Linked DNA regions of Homo sapiens: region 1 is linked to region 2. The links come from fine-mapping of genetic effects on gene expression. A gene starts in region 2. The other region holds a variant in brackets. All regions are shown on one strand. Distances are between the middles of the regions.

Evidence for each region. PIP is the estimated chance that this variant, and not a neighbour inherited with it, causes the effect.
Region 1: its variant is fine-mapped to the expression of APLP1 in breast (GTEx, PIP above 0.99).

Annotation. Positions count from the first base shown.
Region 1 is chr19:36,437,040-36,445,367 of GRCh38, forward strand. ZNF566 (zinc finger protein 566) reads right to left here. Exons shown (of 5, transcript NM_001145344.1): 5 at 8,080-8,328. Among named protein-coding and RNA genes, the nearest start is that of ZFP82, 23 kb to the left of the region's middle. The variant C/T (reference allele first, on the strand shown) is at 4,867.
Region 2 is chr19:35,864,373-35,872,700 of GRCh38, forward strand. APLP1 (amyloid beta precursor like protein 1) reads left to right here and starts at 4,202. Exons shown (of 17, transcript NM_001024807.3): 1 at 4,202-4,411; 2 at 5,295-5,438; 3 at 6,524-6,656; 4 at 6,865-6,977; 5 at 7,240-7,373; 6 at 7,486-7,664; 7 at 8,111-8,241. The coding sequence starts at 4,265. It overlaps KIRREL2 (kirre like nephrin family adhesion molecule 2), which reads left to right. Exons shown (of 15, transcript NM_199180.4): 14 at 276-341; 15 at 1,785-2,764. The coding sequence ends at 2,120. It overlaps LOC107985317 (a long non-coding RNA gene), which reads right to left and starts at 4,985. Exons shown (of 4, transcript XR_001753932.2): 1 at 4,720-4,985; 2 at 3,503-3,758; 3 at 2,115-2,221. RefSeq lists silencers at 4,023-4,282, 4,373-4,442.

The DNA.
Region 1 (8,328 bases), 570 kb after region 2:
ATGGAGTCTTGCTCTGTCACCCAGGCTGGAGTGCAACACACTGCAACCTCCGCCTTCCGGGTTCAAGCGATTCTCCTGCCTCAGCCTCTCAAGTAGCTGGGACTACAGGCACTCGCCACCATGCCTGGCTAATGTTTGTATTTTTAGTAGAGAGGGGCTTTCACCATATTGACCAGGCTGGTCTCAAACTCCTGACCTTGCGATCCACCTGCCTCAGCCTCCTAAAGTGCTGGGATTACAGGCGTGAGTCGCCAAGCCCGGCCCAATTTTTGTATTTTTAGAAGAGACAGGATTCCACCAAGTTGCCCAGGCTGGTCTCAAACTCCTGGGCTCAAAGCATCCACCCGCCTCAACCTTCCAAAGTGCTAGGAGATTATAGGCATGAGGCACTGTGCCCAGCCAAGTAAATTTGATTTAAAAACAACTCACATAACCTCCTCTTTACCCAATAAACTCTAAACTTTTCATTTGTTCTCTAGACATACCAGACACCACGCGTCTATGTATGTCCTGAATTGCAGTTCTACTTCTTGTATATTATTCCCAAATAAAACCTTTTACTTAGCGATTCGTCTCTATGTCTTTTTACGTTGACACAACTTTTTTATTTTAAGTTTTAATTTTTATGGGTACCTAGTAGGTGTACACATTTATGGGGTGCATGAGATATTCTGATACAGGTATGCAACGCATAATAATCACCAGGGTAAATGGAGTATCTGTCACATCAAGCATTTGCTGTTTATGTTATAAACATCCCAATTATACCCTTTTATTTTTAAATGCACAATAAATTATTGTCGACTGTAATCACTGTGTTGTGCTTTTGACATAACTGTTTTAGACTTTGATGGATTTTGTTATGCATGGTATTTTCTAAGGTAATTCTTAAAGCATAGAAATAATATATAGAATTTCCAAGCTAGTAACCATAAACAACGACATGATTATTAAAGCTCCTGAAGAAAACAAGGAGGAAAAATATATATATATATGTATATATAATTGACAAGATAAACAAAAGAACAAAGATAGATTTAAAACCAAATATATTAGTAATCACATCGAATAAAAGTGAATATAATACTTTACTTAAAAGACAAAGGTGGGGCCGGGCGCGGTGGCTCACGCCTGTAATGCAAGCACTTTGGGAGGCCAAGGCGGGTGGATCACAAGGTCAGGAATTCAAGACCAGCCTCGCCAACATGGCGAAACCCCATCTCTACTAAAAATACAAAAATTAGCTGGGCATGGCGGCGCGTGCCTGTAATCCCAGCTACTTGGGAGGCTGAGGCAGGAGAATCGCTTGAACCCAGGAAGCAGATGTTGCAGTGAGCCGAGACTGCGCCACTGCACTCCAACCTGGCAACAGAGCGAGACTCCGTCTCAAAAAAAAAAAAAAAAAAAAGACAAAGGTTGTCAGACTGGAATTTTAAAAGTTCAAGTATAGTCCGGGCGCGGTGGCTCACGCCTGTTATCCCAGCACTTTGGGAGGCCGAGGCAGGCGGATCATGAGGTTAGGAGATCGAGACCATCCTGGCTAACACGGTGAAACCCCATCTCTACTAAAAATACAAAAAAATTAGCCGGGCATGGTGGCGGGCGCCTGTAATCCCAGCTACTCGGGAGGCTGAGGCAGGAGAATGGCATGAACCGAACCCGGGAGGCAGAGTTTGCAGTGAGCCGAGATCGCGCCACTGCACTCCAGCCTGGGCCACAGAGCAAGACTCCGTCTCAAAAAAAAAAAAAAAAAAAAAAAAATTCAGGCATATTGTATTCTCAAAAGCCATCTTTACCTTAAGAATGCAGAAACATTGAAATTAAAGATGGAGGCCAGGCACAGCGGCTCATGCCTGTAATCCCAGCACTTTGGGAGGCCGAGGCAGGCGGATCACTTGAGGTCAGGAGTTTGAGACCAGCCTGGCCAACATGGTGAAACCCCGTCTCTACTAAAAAAAAAAAAAAAAAATACAAACATTAGACGGGCATGGTGGTGTGCGCCTGTAACCTCAGCTACTCAGGAGGCTGAGGCACGAGAATTGCCTGAACGTGGGAGGCGGAGGCTGCAGTGAGCTGAGATTGCACCACTGCGCTCTAGCCTGGGTGACAAAGTGAGACATTGTCTCAAAAAAAGAAAGAAAAAGAAAAAGAAATTAAAGATGGAAAAACTAACAATAAACAAGCAAGTTCATGTAACTATACTACTTAAAATAACAGAAACTTTTTTTTGTTGTTTGAGACGGAGTTTAACTCTTGTCGCCCAGGCTGGAGTGCAATGGCGCAATCTCGGCTCACCACAACCTCCGCCTCCCGGGTTCAAGCGATTCTCCTGCCTCAGCCTCCCAAGTAGCTGGGATTACAGGCATGCACCACCACGACCGGGTAATTTTGTATTTTTAGTAGAGACGGGGTTTCTTCATGTTGGTCAGGCTGATCTGCCCGCCTTGGCCTCCTAAAGTGCTGGGATTATAGGTGTGAGCCACCGCGCCCGGCCCAATAACAGAAACTTTAAGACAAAATGCATTGTGAGACATATCTTGCTTCAAAATCCTATAATGATCTTGTCTGAGGTAGTTACCTTGCAAGGGTGTTACTGTTTTTCTTGCTCCCCTTGTAATATCCAGACCATAAAATGTAATAAAAACCTCAGCATTCTCTCAATGACCAATTATAAAATCAAACCCACATATCAAAAATATTGCCAGATTTTGAAACTTTATCTAAAAATAATATGGAGAATAGATGAAAGAGCACCTTCACCAGAGACACAACAGTGGTTACAAAAAAATGGAAAGTGAGAACATAATGCAGCTATTTGGTGCTCCTTGTGACCATGGGCAACAGATGAAAGGTTGGGGTGGGAGAGGTAAGGGAGAGTAGGTTGGTGTTTGCTGGGCTGATTGATCCTGGCTCTCAAGGGGGAAATAGGTTTGAACCTTCTAAATGTAACATGGATAGAATGCAAAGATTCCCCTGGGTCAACTCCTACCTCTGTCTTTTACAATAGAAAAAGTTAATAGAAAACTATAGTAACTAATAATAATTCGGATCCTATGAAAGAAGATTCGAGTCACTTTAAAAACTTCCAATCACAGCTGGGTGTGGTGGCTGGCTCATGCCTGTGGTCCCAGCTTTTGGGAGGCCAAGGCAAGAAGATCACAAGCCCAGGAGTTCAAGACGAGCCTGGGAAACATAGTGACACACTGGTGCTAAAAAAAATTAACTGGACATTGCAGCACATGCCTGTAGTCCCAGTCACTTGGCAGAGACTGAGGTAGGAAGATGGCTTGAGCCCAGGACATCAAGACTGCAGTGACCCATGATCGTGCCCCTGCACTCCAGCCTGGGCAACAGAGCTACAACCCTGTCTGAAAAACGAAAGAAAGAGAGAGAGAAGAAAGAAAGAAAGAAAGAGAGAGAGAGAGAGAGAGAAAGAATGAAAGAAAGAAAGAAAGAAAGAAAGAGAGAGAGAGAGAAAGAAAGAAAGAAAGAAAGAAAGAAAGAAAGAAAGAAAGAAAGAAAGAAAGAGAGAGAAAGAAAGAAAGAAAAGGGGGGGAGGGACAGAGGGAGGGAAGAAAAGAAAGGCGGGCCAGGCAAGGTGGCTCATGCCTGTAATCCCAGCGCTTTGAAAGGCTGAGGCAGGCAGATCAAGAGGTCAGCAGTTTGAGACCAGCCTGGCCTACATGGTGAAACCCCATCTCTACTAAAAATACAATTAGCCAGGCGTGGTGGCGGGTCCCTGTAATCCCAGCTACTAGGGAGGCTGAGGCAGGAGAATTGCTTGAACCCGGGAGGCAGAGGTTGCATCGAGCCGAGATTGAGCCATCACATTCCAGCCTGGGCAACAGAGCAAGACTCCGTCTCAAAACAACAACAACAAACCCTCCCAATTTGCTAAGTAAAAGGGAATGAGTCACAACTATGATTTATAGAAAAAAAGACTGGAGCATCTATCTGATTAACATACAGTTATATATTATTACTGATTACTTCTTTTTTACTCCCCTTTTTCCTTTATGTAGCTTTTCACATGCTTATATGTATGGGGTACATGAGATGTTTTGATAAAGGCATACAATGTGGAATAATCACGTCAGGGGAAATGGGATATCCATCACCTCAAGTATTTATCACTTATTTGTGTTACAAACATTTCAGTTCTACTCTGTTATTTTTAAATATACAATAAATTATTGTTGACTGTAGTTACCCTGGTGTGCTGTCAAATACTATATCTTATTCATACTATCTAACTATATTTTTGTCCCCACTAACTATCCCTACTATCCCCTTCCCCTGCCCACTATCTTTCCCAGCCTCTGGTGACCATCATTCTACTCTCTATCTCCATGAGTTCAATTTTTAATTTTTAGCTCCCACAAATGAGTGAGAACACGTGAAGTTTGTCATTCTGTGCCTGGCTTATTTCACTTAACATAATGCCCTCTAGTTCCATGCATGTTGTTGCAAATAGCAGTATCTCATTCTTTTTATGGCTGAATAGTACTCCATTGTGTATGTATACCACATTGTCTTTATCCATTCATTGATTGATGGACATTTAGGTTGCTTCCAAATCTTGGCTATTATCAACAGTGCTGCAATAAACATGGGAGTGCAGATATCTCTTCAATATATGAATTTCCTTTCTTTTGGGTATATATCTAGTGGCAGGATTGCTGGATCATATGGTAGCTCTATTTTTTTTTTTTTTTTTTTTTTTTTTGAGACGGAGTCTTGCTCAGTCATCCAGGCTGGAGTGCAGTTGTGCGATCTCCCCTCACTCAAGCTCCGCCTCCCGGGTTCACGCCATTCTCCTGCCTAGCCTCCTGAGTAGCTGGGTCTATAGGCACCTGTCACCATGCC[C/T]GGCTAATTTTTTTTTTGTATTTTTAGTAGAGACAGGGTTTCACCATGTTAGCCAGGATGGTCTCGATCTCCTGACCTCGTGATCCACCCGCCTCAGCCTCCCAAAGTGGTAGCTCTGTTTTTATTTTCTTGAGGAAACTCCATACTTTTCTCCATAGTAGCTGTACTACTTTACATTCCCACCAACAGCATATGAGGGTTCTCTTTTCTCCACATCCTCACCAGCACTTGTTATTGCATGTCCTTTGGATAAAAGCCATTTTATTTTTATTTTATTATTATTATTATTTTTGGGACAGAGTTTCACTCTTGTTGCCTGGGCTGGAGTGCAATGGTGCGATTTCGGCTCACTGCAACCTCCACCTCCTGGGTTCAAGCAATTCTACTGCCTCAGCCTCCCGAGTAGCTGGGATTACAGGCACCCGCCACCACACCCGGCTAATTTTGTATTTTTAGTAGAGATTGGGGTTTCTCCATGTTGGTCAGGCTGGTCTCGAACTCCTGACCTCAGGTGATCCACCTGCCTCGGCCTCCCAAAGTGCTGGGATTACAGGCATAAGCCACTGGGCCCAGCTTCCTAAAACCCCTTTTTAACTGGGGTGAGATGATATCTCATTGTAGTTTTGATTTGCATTTCTCTGAGGATCAGTGATGTTGAGCACCTTTTCACATATCTGTTGGCCATTTGTATGTCTTCTTTTGAGAAATGTCTATTCAGATCTTTTGCCCATTTAAAAAATCAGATTAGATTTTCTTCCTGTTGTTTGAGCTCCTTGTATATTATTAATCCCTTGTCAGATGGATAGTTTGCAAATTTTTTTCCCATGCTGTGGGTTGTCCCTTCACTTTGTTGATTGTTTCCTTTGCTGTGCTCCAGAAGCTTTTTAACTTGATGTGATCCCATTTATCCATTTCTGCTTTCATTACCTGGGATGTTGGGGTATTTATTACTCAAGAAATCTTTGTCCAGACCAATATCCTGGTCTTTAATCTTTTTTTTTTTTCTTCCCTGGCTGGAATGCAATGGCGCGATCTTGGCTCACTGCAACTTCCGCCTCCCAGGTTCAAGTGATTCTCCTGCCTCAGCCTCCAAGTTGCTGGGATTACAGGCTCGCACCGCCATGCCTGGCTAATGTTTTTCATATTTTATTTTTTGAGACGGAGTCTTGCTCTGTCGCCAGGCTGGAGTGCAGTGGTGTGATCTCGGCTTACTGCAACCTCCACCTCCTGGGTTCAAGTGATTCTCCTGCCTTAGCCTCCAAAGTAGCTGGGACTACAGGCGCGTGCCACCATGCCCAGCTAATTTTTGTATTTTTAGTAGAGATGGGGTTTCACCATGTTGGCCAGGATGGTCTCGATCTCTTGAACTCGTGATCCACCCGCCTCGACCTCCCAAAGTGCTGGGATTACAGGCGTGAGCCACCGTGCCCCGCCGTTTTGTTTTGTTTTTTTTTTGAGACAGTCTTGCTCTGTTGCCCAAGCTGGAGTGCAGTGGCATGATCTTGGCTCACTGCAGCCTCTGTCTTCCAAGTTCAAGCGATCCTCCCGCCTCAGCTTCCAGAGTTTCTGGGATTACAGGCACATGCCACCACACCCAGCTAATTTTTGTATTTTAGTAGAGACGGGGTTTCTCCATGTTGGCCAGGCTGGTCTCAAACTCCAGACTTCAGCTGATCCACCTGCCTCTGCCTCCCAAAGTGCTGGGATTATAGGCATGAGCCACAATGCCTGGCCTCATTTTGATTTGATTTTTGTATATGGTGAGATGTAGGGGTTTAGTTTCAGTCTGCATGTGGATATTGTTCTCCCAGCACCATCTACTGAAGAGACTATCGTTTCCCCAATGTATGTTCTTGGCACCTTTGTTGAAAATGAGTTCACTGTAGATGTACGGATGTATTTCCAGGTTCTCTATTCTGTTCCATCGGTTGATGTGTCTGTTTTTATGCCAGTACCATGCAGTTTTGGTTACTATAGCTCAGCAGTATAATTTGAAGTCAGGTAATGTGATTTCTCCAGTTTTGTTCTTTTTGCTTAGGATGGCTTTGGATATTCTGGGTCTTTTGTGGCTATTTTAGGGCTATTTTTTCTATTTCTGTGAATAATGTCATTGGTATTTTTATAGGGATTGCATTGAACCTGTGGTTTATTTCTGTAGTTTACACTTAAAAGTAAGATGACAGAATGTCTACACAGAATCCTCACAGATATAAAGTATAGATATTGCCCATCACATTTTCAGTTGAATGAAAATGGGATGGAAATAGGAATAGAAAATCTATTTTCTATAAAGTAGGAATAGAAAATCATAGCCTGTACTAGAGACCATGGAGAAATTAAGGGTCCAATGAAGGGAGGTAATATACACAGTTTTAACACATTTCACCAAGGCAATAAGTCATTTCTCTTATAACACACAAACAAGAGTAGGGCTAAAAATAGGAAGAAGAAAACAAAATCTCAAAAACTGGCTGTTCTGTAAAAAATGAGTAAAATATGGTTAAAAAAAAAAAGTGCTGCCCAATACCCACTCTCACCAGGTCTGTGGTCTGCATATGCAATAAGAAAATAAGATGGCCCAGGCGCAGTGGCTCATGCCTATAATCCCAGCACTTTGGGAGGCCAAGGCGGGCGGATCACAAGTTCAAGAGATCGAGACCATCCTGGCCAACATGGTGAAACCCTGTCTCTACTAAAAATACAAAAATTAGCTGGGCGTGGTGGTGTGCACCTGTAGTCCCAGCTACTCAGGAGGCTGAGGCAGGAGAATCACTTGAACCCAGGAGGCAGAGGTTGCAGTGAGCCAAGATCGCGCCACGGCACTCCGGCCTGGCGACAGAGGGAGACTCCGTCTCAAATAAAATAAAATAAAATAGATATAAAAAATATTGTGAGATAGGTATGTCACCTTTATCTGCAGATTATATAACTATAGAGCCCAAAAGAATCTATCACCTTATAAGCAGAACTCTAATAAATTTTCAGGTATTACTAGCATATTTTAAGTATTGTGAGACATCACAGTAGATGGTGTTATTATTAGATATTAGAGAGTCAAGAGGATGAAGAGTTATAAAAGAAACCTCAAGATGTGTTAATGAATTCCATTCAGTGTCAATTGTTTATTCATGTAGGATACTCTGCATTTAAACTGAATGAAATTCAAAATATAATCCTAATGGGGTTTTCATTGGAAAATAAATGAGTCAAAAATTCTCATGAAGAAACATCTTTATTTCCAAATAATAAACTATATATTAATAATATATACATACATCTTTATTTCCAAGTAATAAAAGCTATTGAAAAGTGTCAAGGATTGCTAGAATATGGAGAACAGAAATAGATGTGAGCATTTAATATACAACTGATAGTATTTTAATTCAGTAGGAGAAAGGTGAATAATAGTTACTTCTGGCATAACTGGTTTTATTCCTGGATAGAAACAAGTCTGACATCCTG
Region 2 (8,328 bases):
AGAGACAGAGTTTCGGCATGTTAGCCAGGCTGGTCTCAAACTTCTGGCCTCAAGTGATACTCCTGCTGCGGCCTCCCAAAGTGCTGGGATTACATGCATGAGCCACTGTGCTGGCTTCTTACAGCCCTTTTATTGTCCTGAGTGCAGTCCCCAGCTCTTGGGTGCTCTTACTCCCTCCTGCCTGGCCTCCACTGGCTGGCTGAAGGTCCTTGGGGTCTGGCATTGGGGCGGGGGGATCCTCTGACTATTCCCTCTCACTAAGTTCCCTACCCCAGGGCCCCATTGTGCACACTGACCACAGTGATCTGGTTCTGGAGGAGGAAGGGACTCTGGAGACCAAGGTGAGTGTTGAGAGGGGTGGGGCTCCCTTCACTGTTGGGAGAGGCGGGGCTCCCTTCATTGTGTTTCCGTCTCTCTCCCACGCCTGTCCCCTCCTTTTTCCTTCTGTTGTCCTCAGAGTTGGGACTCAGCTCCCCACCCCACTCCTCCTGCCCCCTGGGCCATCTCACTCAGCTCCCAGCCTCAGTTTGCCTGTCTGCAGACTCTTCCCACACATCTGTCCCAGCCCTAGCCTCCATCTGGAGCCCCAGACCAGGGCTCACCCTGCCTGTGCTCTCCTCATCACGGTCAAGCCCCCTTTCAGCCACCAGGTCCTACACTGGCCCCACATCTCCCCAGACTGGTTCTTCCTCTGGGGTCCTACCTCAGGACAGCCACATTGACTCCAGGCCATCCCCAGGCCAGAGCACTTCTCTCTCTCTCTCTCTCCTGCGTACCTAGCACATGCCATTCTCTCTCTTCTTTTTTTTTTTTTTTTTTTTGAGACGGAGTCTCATTCTGTTGCCCAGGCTGGAGTGCAGTGGTGCAATCTCAGCTCACTGCAACCTCTGCCTCCTGGGTTCAAGCCATTCTCCTGCCTCAGGCTCCCTAATAGCTGGCTAATTTTTCTTGTATTTTTAGTAGAGATGGAGTTTCACCATGTTGGCCAGGCTGATCTGGAACTCCTGACCTCAAGTGATCCGCTCGCCCCAGCCTCCCAAAGTGCTGGGATTACAGGCGTGAGCCACTGTGCCCAGCCGACATGCCATTCTCTTGGCCTGAAACACTCCTACCTTCCTTCCCATGTCTACCTAATTCCTTCCTTTAGTCCTCCAGTCTCAGCTCAGACATTTCTTGTTCTAGGAAGCCCATGCTTCCGTCATGACAGCTCGATCATTTTGCCTGTGTTCCACCCATCACAGCCATGACCACTCTGATCTGGGCTTCCTTATCCCACCCACTATGCTGAGGGCTCTACCATCACAGCCCCTGTCATTGCCTATGCCTTTCCCAGGCACAGCCCTGACCCCTCTGGGTACTGTCTCATGATCTGTCATTTTTCCTTTGGTGTGGGATTCTGTGAGGACAGGGTCCAGTTCTATCCTAGTGACATGCCTTGTAGCAGCAACACAGGGTGTGACACTGAATCAAAGCCTAGAGGCTGTTGGGCAGGTGAGTGTCTCTCTCCTGTTCCCTCTGCACCTTCCACACCGACACCCCTCAGCAGGCCTATATCCCTCCGTCTCTACCTTTCTCTGCCTATGTCCTATCCATTTGCCTCTTATCACTGTTCCTCTGTCTCACTTTCTCTCTCTCCCAGTCCATGTGTGTCTCTGTGTCTCTGCCCACTCCTGTCTCTTTTTGTCTCTCTCAAGGTCTGGTCTATTTCAGTGTGTCTCTCCATCAGTGACCCTCATCCCCCCTGCACGCTCACAGACTTTACTGAGTCCCATTTGTCCCCTCAGGACCCAACCAACGGTTACTACAAGGTCCGAGGAGTCAGTGTGAGCCTGAGCCTTGGCGAAGCCCCTGGAGGAGGTCTCTTCCTGCCACCACCCTCCCCCCTTGGGCCCCCAGGGACCCCTACCTTCTATGACTTCAACCCACACCTGGGCATGGTCCCCCCCTGCAGACTTTACAGAGCCAGGGCAGGCTATCTCACCACACCCCACCCTCGAGCTTTCACCAGCTACATCAAACCCACATCCTTTGGGCCCCCAGATCTGGCCCCCGGGACTCCCCCCTTCCCATATGCTGCCTTCCCCACACCTAGCCACCCGCGTCTCCAGACTCACGTGTGACATCTTTCCAATGGAAGAGTCCTGGGATCTCCAACTTGCCATAATGGATTGTTCTGATTTCTGAGGAGCCAGGACAAGTTGGCGACCTTACTCCTCCAAAACTGAACACAAGGGGAGGGAAAGATCATTACATTTGTCAGGAGCATTTGTATACAGTCAGCTCAGCCAAAGGAGATGCCCCAAGTGGGAGCAACATGGCCACCCAATATGCCCACCTATTCCCCGGTGTAAAAGAGATTCAAGATGGCAGGTAGGCCCTTTGAGGAGAGATGGGGACAGGGCAGTGGGTGTTGGGAGTTTGGGGCCGGGATGGAAGTTGTTTCTAGCCACTGAAAGAAGATATTTCAAGATGACCATCTGCATTGAGAGGAAAGGTAGCATAGGATAGATGAAGATGAAGAGCATACCAGGCCCCACCCTGGCTCTCCCTGAGGGGAACTTTGCTCGGCCAATGGAAATGCAGCCAAGATGGCCATATACTCCCTAGGAACCCAAGATGGCCACCATCTTGATTTTACTTTCCTTAAAGACTCAGAAAGACTTGGACCCAAGGAGTGGGGATACAGTGAGAATTACCACTGTTGGGGCAAAATATTGGGATAAAAATATTTATGTTTAATAATAAAAAAAAGTCAAAGAGGCAAGTGTGTCTTAGGGAGTCTACTGGCATTATCACTCTCCACCAAGGAAGGGGTCCCTTAGACCTGTCCCAAGGTCCCTCCTCTACCCTAGCCTATGAGGTGGCTGTAGGAGTAAAACTGTGAGCCACCTCTCAGCCTCTTGCTACCTGCAAAGCACTCTAGGCTCTTTTTTTTTTTTTCTTGAGACAAGATCTGGCTCTATGGCCCACATTGGAGTGCAGTGGCATGATCTCAGCCCACTGCTACCTCTGCATCCTGGGCTCAAGCCATCCTTCCACCTCAGCCTCCCAAGTAGCTGGGACTACAGGTGCATGCCACCACACCCAGCTAATTTTTGTATTTGTTTGTAGACAGGGTTTCACCATGTTGGCCAGGCTGGTCTCAAACTCCTGACCTCAAGTGATCCGCCCACCTAGGCCTCCCAATGTGCTGGGATTACAGGCATGAGCCACTGTGCCCAGCCATGGGCTCTTTTAATATACATCTTCACACACACACACACACACACACACACGCACACACACACATGAGTTGCAAACAGAAAAGACACACACATAGGCATGTATGCACAGACACACGCATAGATGTCCACACAGTTGCACACAAGTGACAGGGCTGCCCCAGGGGTCCTGGGGAAGACTGAATTCTAACTCTCATTAGAGGAGACAAACAAGTGAGCCCTGAAGTGGAGCAGGGAAGGGGAGACTATGGGTAGGAAAATGGCAATCCCCTGGTCCTTACAGCAAGCGTGGAGATCCAGACCCTAATCCTGAGGTGCTGCATCCACAGTGGGCATGGTGCTGGTGCCTGCTTGGATGATCCTTAAAGAAAGGTCCTGGGGGCTTTGGTTCATGGATCCTTGAGCTAGGAGTTAAAGGTCCAGGCCCCTGGGACCCTTGGGAAGCAGAGCAAGAAGAGTGAACTCCTGGGTCTGAAGGAGAATGGGCTGGGGGCTTGGTCTCTGGTCCTGAGAGAGAAGGTGCCCAGACTTCTGGATCTGAAAGAGGAAGGGACTAGGTCTCAACTGCTGCCTTCTTGACTGGGGACATTTTGGAGGCCTGTATTCCTGAGCCCTCAACAGAGGAATGTACTAGGGGATGGGGGTCTCTGATGCTTGCATCCTTGGAAAAGGACAAAACTGTGAGTGTCTGGGTCTAAAGAGGGTGAGAGTCCTGCGGGAGGACTCAAAATCCACAACGGGCGGAGCCCATAGCCGGACTCCTGGCTGGGCCCTTCATGGGGCGGGACGCCTGGAATCTCGAGGGGCGGGGGCCTGGCGCAGGCTCCCGCCCGGGGTTCCCGAGCTGCTCCACTCTGCGCGAAGCCGCCACGCTATTGTCCTGACCAGGAAGGCGGGGCCGGCGCGGGGCGGGGCTGGCGGCGCCGGCGCAGCCCGGGGGCGGCGGGAGGAGGAGGTGGCGGCGGTGGCGCTGGGAGCTCCTGTCACCGCTGGGGCCGGGCCGGGCGGGAGTGCAGGGGACGTGAGGGCGCAAGGGCCGGGACATGGGGCCCGCCAGCCCCGCTGCTCGCGGTCTAAGTCGCCGCCCGGGCCAGCCGCCGCTGCCGCTGCTGCTGCCACTATTGCTGCTGCTTCTGCGCGCGCAGCCCGCCATCGGGAGCCTGGCCGGTGGGAGCCCCGGCGCGGCCGAGGTGAGGCCGGGCCGGGTCCTGGGGGATGGGGGAAGGGGCGGGACCGGGTCTCTGGACGCCGGCGCGGACATGTCCAGGGCAGAAAGCGCGGTCTTTCCAGCCAGGTGGTCAGCCCCCAGGCGCCCCCAATCACATTTATGAACCCAGGGTTCCAGGCCCCAGCTCCCCCATCATGCGACGTCCCAGCCCCCTCCCATCTCGAGCATAGGAACTGGTCTATTCAGAGCCCCTGGTCCCAGAAGTCCAGCCCCCTCTCCAGACCCAGGTGACTCGGCCCCAACCCCCTCCCGCCTGGACATAGGACCCACCAAGCAGCGAGGCATTTAGATCCAATAATCCAGACCCCTTGTATTCTCTGGACCCATATGGAGGCCCTTGCAGCCTCCCAGGACCCAGGAGTCCAGTCCTTCAGTCACCACCCACCCCAACCAGATGTAGCTCTCCAGTCCTCAAGGACCTGGTGTCCAGGACTGTAGGCCCCTGAAGCCAGGCCTTGTCAGCTTTGCATCCTGCAACGGGAGCCTGAGCAAGGGATGGAGGGAGGAGGGGCCAGAACTCCTGGGTTCTGGCCTCCTCCTCCGCGATTCAGGTTTAACCCCTTCGGGCTCCAGAGCGGCTGCGCTGGGGTGGGGGCGGAGTCTGTCTCCGCGGCAACAAGGCAGAAAGAATCCCGGGGGACCCAGGTCGCCATAGCAACGGGAGCGCTGGGGCGCCCCCGCCCTACGGGAGCTGTTTCCCAGGGAACGGTGCCTCCATGGAGGCGGTGTGCGGTGCTTGGGGGAGGGGGCTGGTGCTGGGGGTCTCGGTCCTAGGGAGCAAAGAACCAGGGGACCCTCATGCCAACGCCCCCCGAGCCCTCACTGTCCTTTCCACTTCCATCCAGGCCCCGGGGTCGGCCCAGGTGGCTGGACTATGCGGGCGCCTAACCCTTCACCGGGACCTGCGCACCGGCCGCTGGGAACCAGACCCACAGCGCTCTCGACGCTGTCTCCGGGACCCGCAGCGCGTGCTGGAGTACTGCAGACAGGTGGGCGGGGCCGAACGGGAGAGGCGGGGCCGCCCATAGAAAGCTAGACTTGAAAAAGGCGTGGTCCAGGGTGCTGCGCGATCTAAGGCGTGGAGGCTGGGGGGCGTGGCCAATAAAGAGGCGCAACTATGCTAGGGGCAGGGGACCTGTTTTGAGATACTAAGTCAGGAAAAGGGGAGAGCCGCGAGATAGCCAGAGAGGAAGTGGAATTTAGGAATCTGGTGGTCTTTGTAAAGAGTAGAGGTGTAGGGGGGAGTGGCGAAAGGATAGGCGGGGCTAAGACAGAAAGAGACCTTAAGGACCAGCAAGATGGGGAAAGGGGTGGAGCCCAATGAGAGCGCGGAGAGCTGGGGGGGCGTGGCCATGAAAAGACAAATTTATAACGGGAAGGGAGAGTTTTGGAGAGGCGGAATAGAGGAAAAGGCGGGGCCTAAAGGAGGGTGAGACCTTTGGGGAGACGAATCTGACTGCGGGGAGGGGTGACCAGAGAGGTGGGCTTAGAGGGACCTTCAGAAAGAAACAGCACAGGAAAAGAGATAGGGCTTAAAGATGACGGGACTTTTAAGGGAAAACTGCTAGTGGGCGTGGCCAATGAGCACAAGGAGCTTGGATATCTAAGGCTGGTGCTAGGGAGAAGCAGGGCCTAGGGAAGCGATGTCCTCATGAATACTAGAGCCTTGAAAACGGACCTGGCCGGGCGCGGTGGCTCACGCCTGTAATCGCAGCACTTGGGGAGGCCGAGGCAGGCGGATCACCTGAGGTCAGAAGTTCGAGACCAGCCTGGCCAACACGGCGAAACTCCGTCTCTACTAAAAATACAAAAATTAGCCTGGCATGGTGGTGCGTGCCTGTAATCCCAGCTACTCAGGAGGCTGAGACAGGAGAATCGCTTGAACCTGGGAGGAGGAGGTTGCAGTGAGCCGAGATTGTACCATTCCACTCCAGCCTGGGCGACAAGAGCAAATCTCCGTCTCAAAGAAAGAAAGAAAGAGGGAGAAAGAAAGAGAAAAGGGACCTGACTACTGGAGAGGGGTGGCTGGCAGGGGCGGGGCAGTGGGCTGATTGCCCCCATCTGATCCCCCCAGATGTACCCGGAGCTGCAGATTGCACGTGTGGAGCAGGCTACGCAGGCCATCCCCATGGAGCGCTGGTGCGGGGGTTCCCGGAGCGGCAGCTGCGCCCACCCCCACCACCAGGTTGTGCCCTTCCGCTGCCTGCGTGAGTCCCAGGCGGGGAGAGGGGAACTGAGGTGGGAGTTTCTGAGGGGCAAGGTTCTGAGCCCCTCTCTCAGGCCTACATTAAGGGGCTGGGTGCTTGTGTCCTAAGTGGGGCAGAGAAGCCTCTGAGGATAAAATATCTGGATTCTGAGGAGGGTGGGGTTGGTGGCTATAGGAGGATCTCACCCTGGTGTCCCGTGCTTCCCCAGCTGGTGAATTTGTGAGTGAGGCCCTGCTGGTGCCTGAAGGCTGCCGGTTCTTGCACCAGGAGCGCATGGACCAATGTGAGAGTTCAACCCGGAGGCATCAGGAGGCACAGGAGGTCAGGACGTTGGCCCACCCGTCCCCAGCCCCCACAACCCAGGAACTGGGACCTCTAACACCCTCCGCCACCAGAACCGAGGAGTCTGGGCCACCAGCATCCTCTTCGCACTTGGGATCTAAGAATTTCATCCCCCAACCCCTTCCTCTAGAAGCAGGAATCCAGGCTCCCAGCCTCATCAACCCCCAACCCTGGCAGCCCAGTTCCCCATCTACCCCCTCCCATCCCACAATCCTGGCATCTGGGCCCACTCTTCCTACAGGCCTGCAGCTCCCAGGGCCTCATCCTGCACGGCTCGGGCATGCTCTTACCCTGTGGCTCGGATCGGTTCCGTGGTGTGGAGTATGTGTGCTGTCCCCCTCCAGGGACCCCCGACCCATCTGGGACAGCAGTTGGGTGAGTGGGAGGGAACCCTCCATGCCCATCTCAAGGTTCCTGAGGCAGGGGATGGAAGCCTGGGAGCCCAGGCCTGGGTTCTTACTGCCTGGGTCCTCTCCTGCTCCCTCAGTGACCCCTCCACCCGGTCCTGGCCCCCGGGGAGCAGAGTAGAGGGGGCTGAGGACGAGGAAGAGGAGGAATCCTTCCCACAGCCAGTAGATGATTACTTCGTGGAGCCTCCGCAGGCTGAAGAGGAAGAGGAAACGGTCCCACCCCCAAGCTCCCATACACTTGCAGTGGTCGGCAAAGGTGAGGCAGTCTCTGAACCCCTGGGGCCTCTCCACCATAGAGGGAGAAAGATCTGGGGGAGTCTTGCTGGGGGGTGTCTTTGGGAGGGGCCTATAGGGGAAAGGCCCAACTGAGGAGAAAAGACGAGAGTATCTTTGGATAAAATAGAAGTAGAAGGGCTAACCTGCCAAGGGAGGGGGTGGTTTGGGGGTACTTGGGAGTAGAGGGGCCATTGGGTAGGTCTTGAGGATCATTTCAGGAAAGCTTGGAAGATGGTGTAATGGATTCCTAAGCTTTGCAAGAACAGGCCCAGTCCAGAACTACATCTCCCATAATGCCAGGCAGCAGCGGTGGCTAAACTGGGTGCATGATGGTCTCCAGTGCACTCTAGGAAATGTGGTTCTCTAGGTAGAAAAGGCGACCTGGAGGTGGGCTGCAGACTGACCTCCTGATCCCTGGTCTTGCAGTCACTCCCACCCCGAGGCCCACAGACGGTGTGGATATTTACTTTGGCATGCCTGGGGAAATCAGTGAGCACGAGGGGTTCCTGAGGGCCAAGATGGACCTGGAGGAGCGTAGGATGCGCCAGATTAATGAGGTGATAATACTGGGGGCCCCAGGACCCCCTACAGTACAGAGCTCCCTAAATACCAGGAAATTCCTCCAGGACACATTGATACTACCT